2 linked regions of the Homo sapiens genome follow. The protein of the gene in region 2 binds, or shares a complex with, the protein of the main gene of each other region. Each region holds a gene or a part of one and is shown on either strand. Other genes may lie near its edges. The genes, in order: SDC4 and SDCBP.

Region 1 (3,911 bases), on a different chromosome or scaffold from region 2:
GACAAGTCTCCTGATGGAACTACAGCCCCTGTTGAGGACTTTGACCTGGTCAACAGCTGGCCAAAGTGTACCATTCTTTCTTTCTCCCGGCTAGATTGACCCCCCTACTTAACAGGGCTCCCTTGGAGCCTGGGGCAGGCTGGTGACCCCGTGTACATATGTGTTCATGCGTGTGTTTATGTGTTTGTGGTTAAATGTCCAGGTCAGTGAAGCCTGGGTTCTGGCCCAGTGTGGCTACTTCCTGCTTGTGTGGCCTTGGACAAGTGACTTTACTTTTCTGAGCCCTTGTTTCCATCTCTGCAAAAAGGGACTATTAAAAGGACCTAGACAGGCTGTGTGCTTGGTTAAGGCCTGTCACTTGGGTTCTTGGGGGATTTGCCACAGGAGATGGAGGTAGGAGCACAGGGACCCTGCCCTTAGGTATAGGCACTTGGGCAGCCATGAGGAGCCTTCCTCCTGCTCTGCCAAACCAAAGCCACAGGCACGGGCTATGTGCGGGGGCTTGAATTCCAGCACCAGCAGCCCGGCAGCTCCTGATTCCCGAGTCATGAAGTCATCTCTGAGCAGCACTTAACCTCTCTGGCTTTCCACCCCCACGGGTGCCAAGCGTTCAGCATTCTCCCCACTCCCCGGGAGAGAGTGATTCCTGGCCACTGCCTTCCTTGTGGCCTGACCCCGCTCCCTTCCGGGAATCCAGCATTCTCCCTCTGTGGGGGTGGAAGAGGGTGCATGAGGGTCAGGTTCCACCTGCCTCTCCCCAGAAGCCCAGTGGGGAGAGTACAGGAGTGGCTCTGAAGCAGCTTTCCTGGGCCTCTCCTGCAATGATAATAACCTTATCTTAGGGACAGATGTTCCTTCTCAGACACCCTCCTTTGTCAATGGCAGTCTCAGCTGAGTGAAGGACTGCCTGGGGTGTCCGAAACAGAGACCTGACCTCTTTCTATCCTGAGTTATGTAGCGAACGCTCTGTGTGACCTTGGGCAAGTCCCTGCCCTGTTCCGGGCTCAGATTCAAGTTGTGTGAAACGGGAGGACAGGAGCTCCTTGGGTCCTGGCATTCTGTGATTCTAAGCAGACCCCCAGCTCCTGCAGTTATGGCGTCTGGAGAAGATGGGAATGTCTTTCAGCGGGAGGGGCATGGTGTATTGAACTTAATGAAAAACCCCAACTCTCCTGGCAAATACTAGGCACTTTAGTGTTTGAATTAATTAGTAGAATAATGAACTTTGCTCAGAGCTGCTGTTCTCTGGGCAAACAGAAGCCTGAGCCCAGAAGCTGGAGGAAGGGTGATGGGCATCCAAATGTTTCCTGTGCTCTTGAGGGTACATTGTTCCCACTCGGTGGAGCTACAGGATGGGAGCAGGGTAACTGATGTACTGTAGGGCTGCCCGGGACCTTTGACACTTTCTTTTGGCAAGCGGTTTGGTGGGAGTGGACCTGAGACTCTGTCCTGATCAGCTGTGTCTCCACAGGGTAGTGGCTGAGTGATGATTATGGGTACTGGAGTGGATGGTCTGTGAGGGTAGGGATTGTGCCTCTCGGTGTCTGCATGGTGCTGGCAGCAGAGTAGATCTGTGGGAGATGTTTGGAAGGCAAGACTGAATCCAGGAGTACACTCCTGAGTCATCAGGTCTGGGCAGCGCCCTGACCTGAGGCTGTCTTAGGGTGTGCGTGAGGCAGCCCTGTCTGTCCCGGCCCAGACTGACTCAGCTGGGAAAAGTATCCTGGACTGGGCAAGACCAGAACCAGGAGCCCACTCCCTGTCCTGTGTGAATCAGCTGCCACTGCATCACAGAGCCCTGGAGTGTAGCATCCCAGGGCCCTGTGCATGGAGACTCCTGGCTCTGAAGTCAGGCAGCCCTGCGTATGCAATCCTCGCTCTTCCATCTGCCAGCTGTGTCACCAAAAGAAAATGACTCCCTCGGCTGTAAAAAGAAGTGAATAACATGCCTCCAGAGTTATTAAAACAGGGCCCAGCACATAGCAAGTGCTCGGTAAAGGATATCTAGCCATATTAATAATTTGATTATTACCTCATTTACTGTTTTTATTTTTTTTGAGACGGGGGTCCCACTCTGTAGCTCAGGCTAGAGTGCAACGGCGTGATCCTGGCTTATTGCAACCTCCGCCTCCCGGGTTCAAGCAATTCTCCTGTCTCAGCCTCCCGAGTAGCTGGGACTACAGGCGTAAGCCACCACGCCCAGCTGATTTTTGTATTTTTAGTAGAGACGGGGTTTCACCATGTTGGCCAGGCTGGTCTTGAACTCCTGACCTCAAGTGATCTGCCTGCCTCCGCCTCCCAAAGTGTTGGGATTACAGGTGTGAGCCACTGTGCCCAGCCTCATGTACTATTTTTATTTGCCCAGAATGGAAAGAGACTTGCCTAAGGACACGCGGTGAGTTAGAGGTAGAGTGGGATCCAGGACGCAGGTCTCCAGGCCCTGGCCTGGTCTCTTTCTAGTTTCTGAATGCCCACTTCACTAGCTTTTGGGCATCAGCTGTCATGGAGCACTGGGGATGTTGGCTGATGTGTCTCCTTTCTTTATCTTAGATCCGAGAGACTGAGGTCATCGACCCCCAGGACCTCCTAGAAGGCCGATACTTCTCCGGAGCCCTACCAGACGATGAGGATGTAGTGGGGCCCGGGCAGGAATCTGATGACTTTGAGCTGTCTGGCTCTGGAGATCTGGGTACGGAAGGTGTGCTGGGCAGGCGTAGGCACAAAGCTGGAGGGAGTGGTGGCTTCACCAGCCAGGAGGGTGACCATGCCTTGAGACTTGGATTTTTGTGGGACTTTTCCTAGAGTGCCCTTCTTCCTTCTCAAAAAAAGGGGAAACAAAAGTAATGGATTAACCTATTCCATCCCTGAGAGCCCCTGGGGACAAGCTGTTTGCTGCTTTGAAGTCATTGGTAGCTCTGGGTTTTCTGAGCTCCAGCCTGAACGTGTCCTCATAAGCTCTTCTCTTTTCTGCAGGGCATGGTGGGGGTGGGGTGAGGGTAGGATGGGTGGCAGGACAGGGTGGGAGTGGGGAAGGAGGACCCATAGAGTGTTTTCCTTTTTTTGAAAGGAAAAGTTCCAGCCTGGGCCACATGGTGAGAACTTGTCTCTACAAAAACACAAAAATTAGCTGGATGTGGTGGCATGCACCTGTAGGAGTCCCAGCTACTTGGGAGGCTGAGGTGGGACGATCCCTTGAGCCTAGGAGGTTGGGGCTGCAGTGAGCCAAGATCATGCTACTGCACTCCAGCCTGGGTGACAGAGTGAGACCCTGTCTCAAAACAAAAAAGGAAAAGTAGCAGCTTAGAAGTGGGGATGGGGTGGGAGGGGGCATGAGTGGGCAGAGATGTAGTTGGGAAACCAAGAACAAGTCCCTGCTTCAGTGGGGGTGGGGGCGGGTGAAGGGCCCAAGGCCTCTAGGCCAGACAGCTAATAAGTGTCCCTCCTATGTGCAGAGAGGTGTTAATGATTGCAAGTTTTAGCTTTGCAAGTTTTAGCTTTGGAGTCACATGGTCCTGAGTTCAAGCCTCCATCCTGTGTGAACTGAGCTTCAGTTTTCTAATCTGTAAAATGGGAATAATAAAGATAGTACATCAGTGTTGTGGGGACTGAACTGACTTAAAGCTTTTGGCACCTACCAAGCACTCAGTACGTGTGTGTTTGGTTTAAAAAAAAAATAAATTTTATGGCCGGGCACGGTGGCTCATGCCTGTAATCCCAGCACTTTGGGAGGCCAAGGCAGGCAGATCACGAGGTCAGGAGTTTGAGACCAGCCTGGCCAACATGGTGAAACCCCGTCTCTACTAAAAATACAAAAATTAGCCAGGTGTGGTGTCGAGTGCCTGTAATCCCAGCTACTTGGGAGGCTGAGGCAGGAGAATTGCTTGAACCCGGGAGGCAGAGGTTGCAGTGAG
Region 2 (3,911 bases):
AGCTATATATGCTGATATTAGAAAAGCTCCAAAATATGATCACTAACTGGAAAAATAAGAGCAAAATGTGAAGCAGTATATAAAATGTTAACGTTTGTGTTAAAAGCAAGGAGGCAAATACAGCTTATATGTTTGCCTGTGTAGATATAAAATTTGCCTAGAATACCTAAGAAATGTAAAAAAGTTGCCTGCCTGCCAGAAGACTTGTTACTTTATACCTTTTTATGCTGCTTAAATTTTGAGACAAGTGACTGTTTACCTACTCAAAAACAATACATTTACAAAACATGTTGGCAGCACTTGAAAAGAAATTAATAAATGCTAACGTAACTATTGCTAAAAGTAGAAAGTATTTCAAAGTTATTTGGGGGCGCTTTTCTTTTTTAGAATCTCTTGGCATTTAATACCTATAAAAAGTTCCCAAATCTGGCAAAAACAGGGAAAATAGTTGTCACGCTCATTTTAAGAAACTCTTTAATTAAACAGTACATTTAACCGGCAACCATTAGCAAATTCTTCCCCTTTTGTTCATCTTTTTCCCCTTTTTACATCTTTTCCTATAATGCCCAAAACTAAAAGTTAATGTCTCCAAAGTTAAATTTAATTTATAATGGAGTGACTATTTACTGACCATTTTAAAAGTCATTCTACTTCTTTTTATTCTGTGCCACAAACCACTAGATTTATAATATTTATGTACCATTTAAGGCACAAATTTTATAGAATTAAGTTGGTAACACAGAAGACAAAAGGACGTATTTTCTACCGTTATCCCTCAATCTTAAACAGGAAAATAAAAAGACTGAACAAATTTGAGTTTTAACTAATCACATACACATTTAGAAATCAATTTAATTTAAAAGGCCCGCAGTTGTTTTTCAAGGTAAATTTCCTGCTTTAATCAACGATTTCTTTTTGAAACAAGCGGATGTTAAGAGTTTGGTAAGCCGAGCGTACTTTCTAAGCAATGTACGTAATGGAAAAGATAACAGTAAATGTGTATGTGGTTATACAGACTAGATAATCTACAAACTCCTTTCAAAAATGGACACATTAGAAGACTCCATGACTCAATAATCACCACTTTGGTAAAAGTGAAAACTTTCCACATCCATATGCCTTCCCTTTCCCATTATTACAAGGAAATCCTGAAAGGAAGGCTCTGAGTCATCATATCTCAGGGGTCAGATCTCAGGGGTATTTCCTTCTAAACACACCCTACTGGAAACGTTTCTCCCTCAGGTCCAACTTCTCCAGGAAAAAGCTCAAAGCGAACAACCTCTCCCCACCCCCTTCCAAAAAAGTCAAGGCTTCGCCCAATAAACAAACACTTCCTTCCTCCTTTCAAATCCAGGACTTTCCGAATAACCCAAAAGAAGGGCGATTAAGCACAGCCCTAGAAACGCCGAGCACTGGGAGGAACCGTGGCCAGAGGCTCTTTCTTATGTCGAGATCTTATCGAGGAGAAAACAAGGATCGAGAGACGGTCCCAGGAAGAACCCCAGAGCTGGGGCGGGGGCTGAAGGCGTTCACCCAGCCGGGCCTCCGGGCTCTGCCAGCCCCAGCCCCAGCCCCAGCCCCAGCCCCAGCCCGGGCAGGAACCCGAAACGCGCGGGGTCGCGGCAGGAAGAGCGCGCTGCTCCCGCAAACTTGCCCCCCCAGCCAGCAGGGCGCAGGGAGGGGCGCGGAGCCCCCTGAGGAGAGGGCGTCGCCGCTGCCTCGCGAAAACGGCTGCGACCAGGATGCAGTCTGTGAAGTGGCCCAGGGACCGTCACACCTCTGCCCCAAGTCCCCGCGCCCGGGACCTGGCACCGGCGTCCCTCCTTGCCCCCTTGGCCTCTCACCTAGCCCACAAGGAACCGCTCGCCGCCGCCGCCTCCGGTCACTGGCACGGACTTCTGAGGCCCGAGTGTAAGAGAGCGGTGCGCGCCCGAGGACCGCCCCCGAGGCGCGTCATGGCACCGCCCCCGCCTTCAGCCCGCGCAGTCGCACGGCGCCGGGTCGGGTGATCCCGTCCCCAAGGTAACGGGGCGGTAGGGGTAAAGAGGCCTGGGTGTGGGTCGTTCCTGCAGCTCCAGGTATCCGGCAAAGTGGGGCGGTTCATGCCGCCCGCTGTCCGCTGCCCGCTGCCCAGCGGTTATGCTCCCAGTCTTCTCCGCTCTTCGGCTGTTCGTGCCCGCGGGCCCCGTGCCACCCACTCACTACTGTGTGCATCGCAGCTCACGGTCGCTTGGTTCTCGTCGCCTCCAATTCAAAGAGGTCTCGGGAGCCCCTGTTCCCTCTTGGGATGCCTTCGACTTCCACCACTTGCTGCCCTAGTCTCACTCTCCGCTTGCTGTACCTCTCCACTATAGGCTCAGAAACGTTCCTCTCACGACCCCTTCTCAACTCCTGCTTTATTTTTCTGTTGGAAATTTGGATGTTGGGGGTGGGGGGCGTATTACTCTGTCCGCCTAAGCTAATATTCCTTCGCTATTGAGAGTTAGGTGTGGTGCTGCGCAAAAGTAATTGCTTCCCAGTAAAAAAACATAACGATCATTTCTTGAGGGCTGATTTTGTGCCAGCCATAGCTCTACGAACTTAATGTATAGTCTTATTTGGTCTTCACATCAGTCTATAAAGACATCCCATTACAGACAAAGAAACTGAGGCACAGTTTACCCAAGAGTAATCATAGTTACCACGGAATACTGTAGAGTCCTTGACAAAATAGCATTTACAAGCAGTTTATTTCTAGCTAAATTAGTGCCAGAATAATTTAATATATGGCAAAACTAATAAAAATCTGAGTGTAAAAGAGGTGACAACTAAAGATGAAAACTTTGCTCTCAGTAAGGTTATAGTTAGGCTGATGAAATGGACATTTAAAAATAATTACAAGGTAGATTGGGAAGGAAGAAATAAAACTTTTTGCTTTCAGATGAGATGGTTATCTAACATAGAAAATCCGGAAAAAATTGACACTCCTCGCCTAAAAAAACAGAATGAAAAGCAATTATAGCAAGTTTGCATGAGCAAGTTTAAAACAGGCTCATTCTAAGCCAAAATGCTTGGGACCAGAAATGTTTCCAATTTTGGATTTTTTTTTTTTTTGCTTTTGTAATATTTGCATTATATACTTATGGGTTTACCATCCCTACTCCAAAACTCAAAATGTTCCAGTGAACATTTCCCTTGGTCCTCATGTCAGCACTCAAAAAGTTTCATATTTTAGAGTAGTTCATATTTTGGATTTCTGTACTAGGAATAGTCGACCTGCATACATGGTCTGTTGTTTTCTTATATACCATCAATAAACAATTGGTATTTGAAATTAAAAACAATAACCACTGACATTAGCACCAAAATAAAATGAAATATTTAGGTATAAATCTAACAAAATATGTAAAAGGTTTATACAAGAAAAACTACAAAATTCTAAATAAAAAAAACTTCCAATGAGAAAAACTACAAAGTTCAAAGGAGATCTAAATAAATTTAAAGATATTCCATTTTCATGGATAGGAGTACTTGATATTTAACTGTCAGTTCTGCCCAACTTAATCTATAGATTTGATACAATCAAATCAAATCAATCAAAATCCCAGCAAGTTATTTTGTGGATATTAACTGATTCTCAAGTTTATATGGAAAAATGAAAGACCAGAAGAGCCAAACCAATACCAAAGGAGAGGAACAAAGTCAGAGGCCTAACAGTACCTTAGTTCAGGCTGTTGTAACAAATTGCCATAGATTGGGTGGCTTAAACGACAGAAATTTATTTCTCACATCTCTGAAGTCTGAGAAGCCCAAAATCAAGTTGCTGGCACATCTGGAAATCTGGTGAGGGCTCACTTTTGAGTGTGCAGATGGCATTCTTCCCATTGTATCCCCACATGGCAGAAAACAAGACAGATAAAGCACATTCTCTT

The links.
Region 1: the proteins of SDCBP (region 2) and SDC4 are in contact, whole or in part, in a crystal structure (PDB 8BLV), measured with the Homo sapiens proteins. Residues at the interface, in NP_001007068.1 of Homo sapiens: Gly207, His208, Val209, Gly210, Phe211, Ile212, Phe213, Lys214, Thr219, Val222, Asp251, Ser252, Ala255, Leu258; in NP_002990.2 of Homo sapiens: Thr193, Asn194, Glu195, Phe196, Tyr197, Ala198.

Annotation. Positions count from the first base shown.
Region 1 is NC_000020.11:45,334,560-45,338,470, reverse strand, and holds part of SDC4 (syndecan-4 precursor), read left to right. Parts: intron 1-2,550; coding exon 2,551-2,689; intron 2,690-3,911. UniProt on the Homo sapiens protein: Cell surface proteoglycan which regulates exosome biogenesis in concert with SDCBP and PDCD6IP.
Region 2 is NC_000008.11:58,551,237-58,555,147, reverse strand, and holds the start of SDCBP (syntenin-1), read right to left. Parts: upstream 1,888-3,911; 5' UTR 1,845-1,887; intron 1-1,844. UniProt on the Homo sapiens protein: Multifunctional adapter protein involved in diverse array of functions including trafficking of transmembrane proteins, neuro and immunomodulation, exosome biogenesis, and tumorigenesis.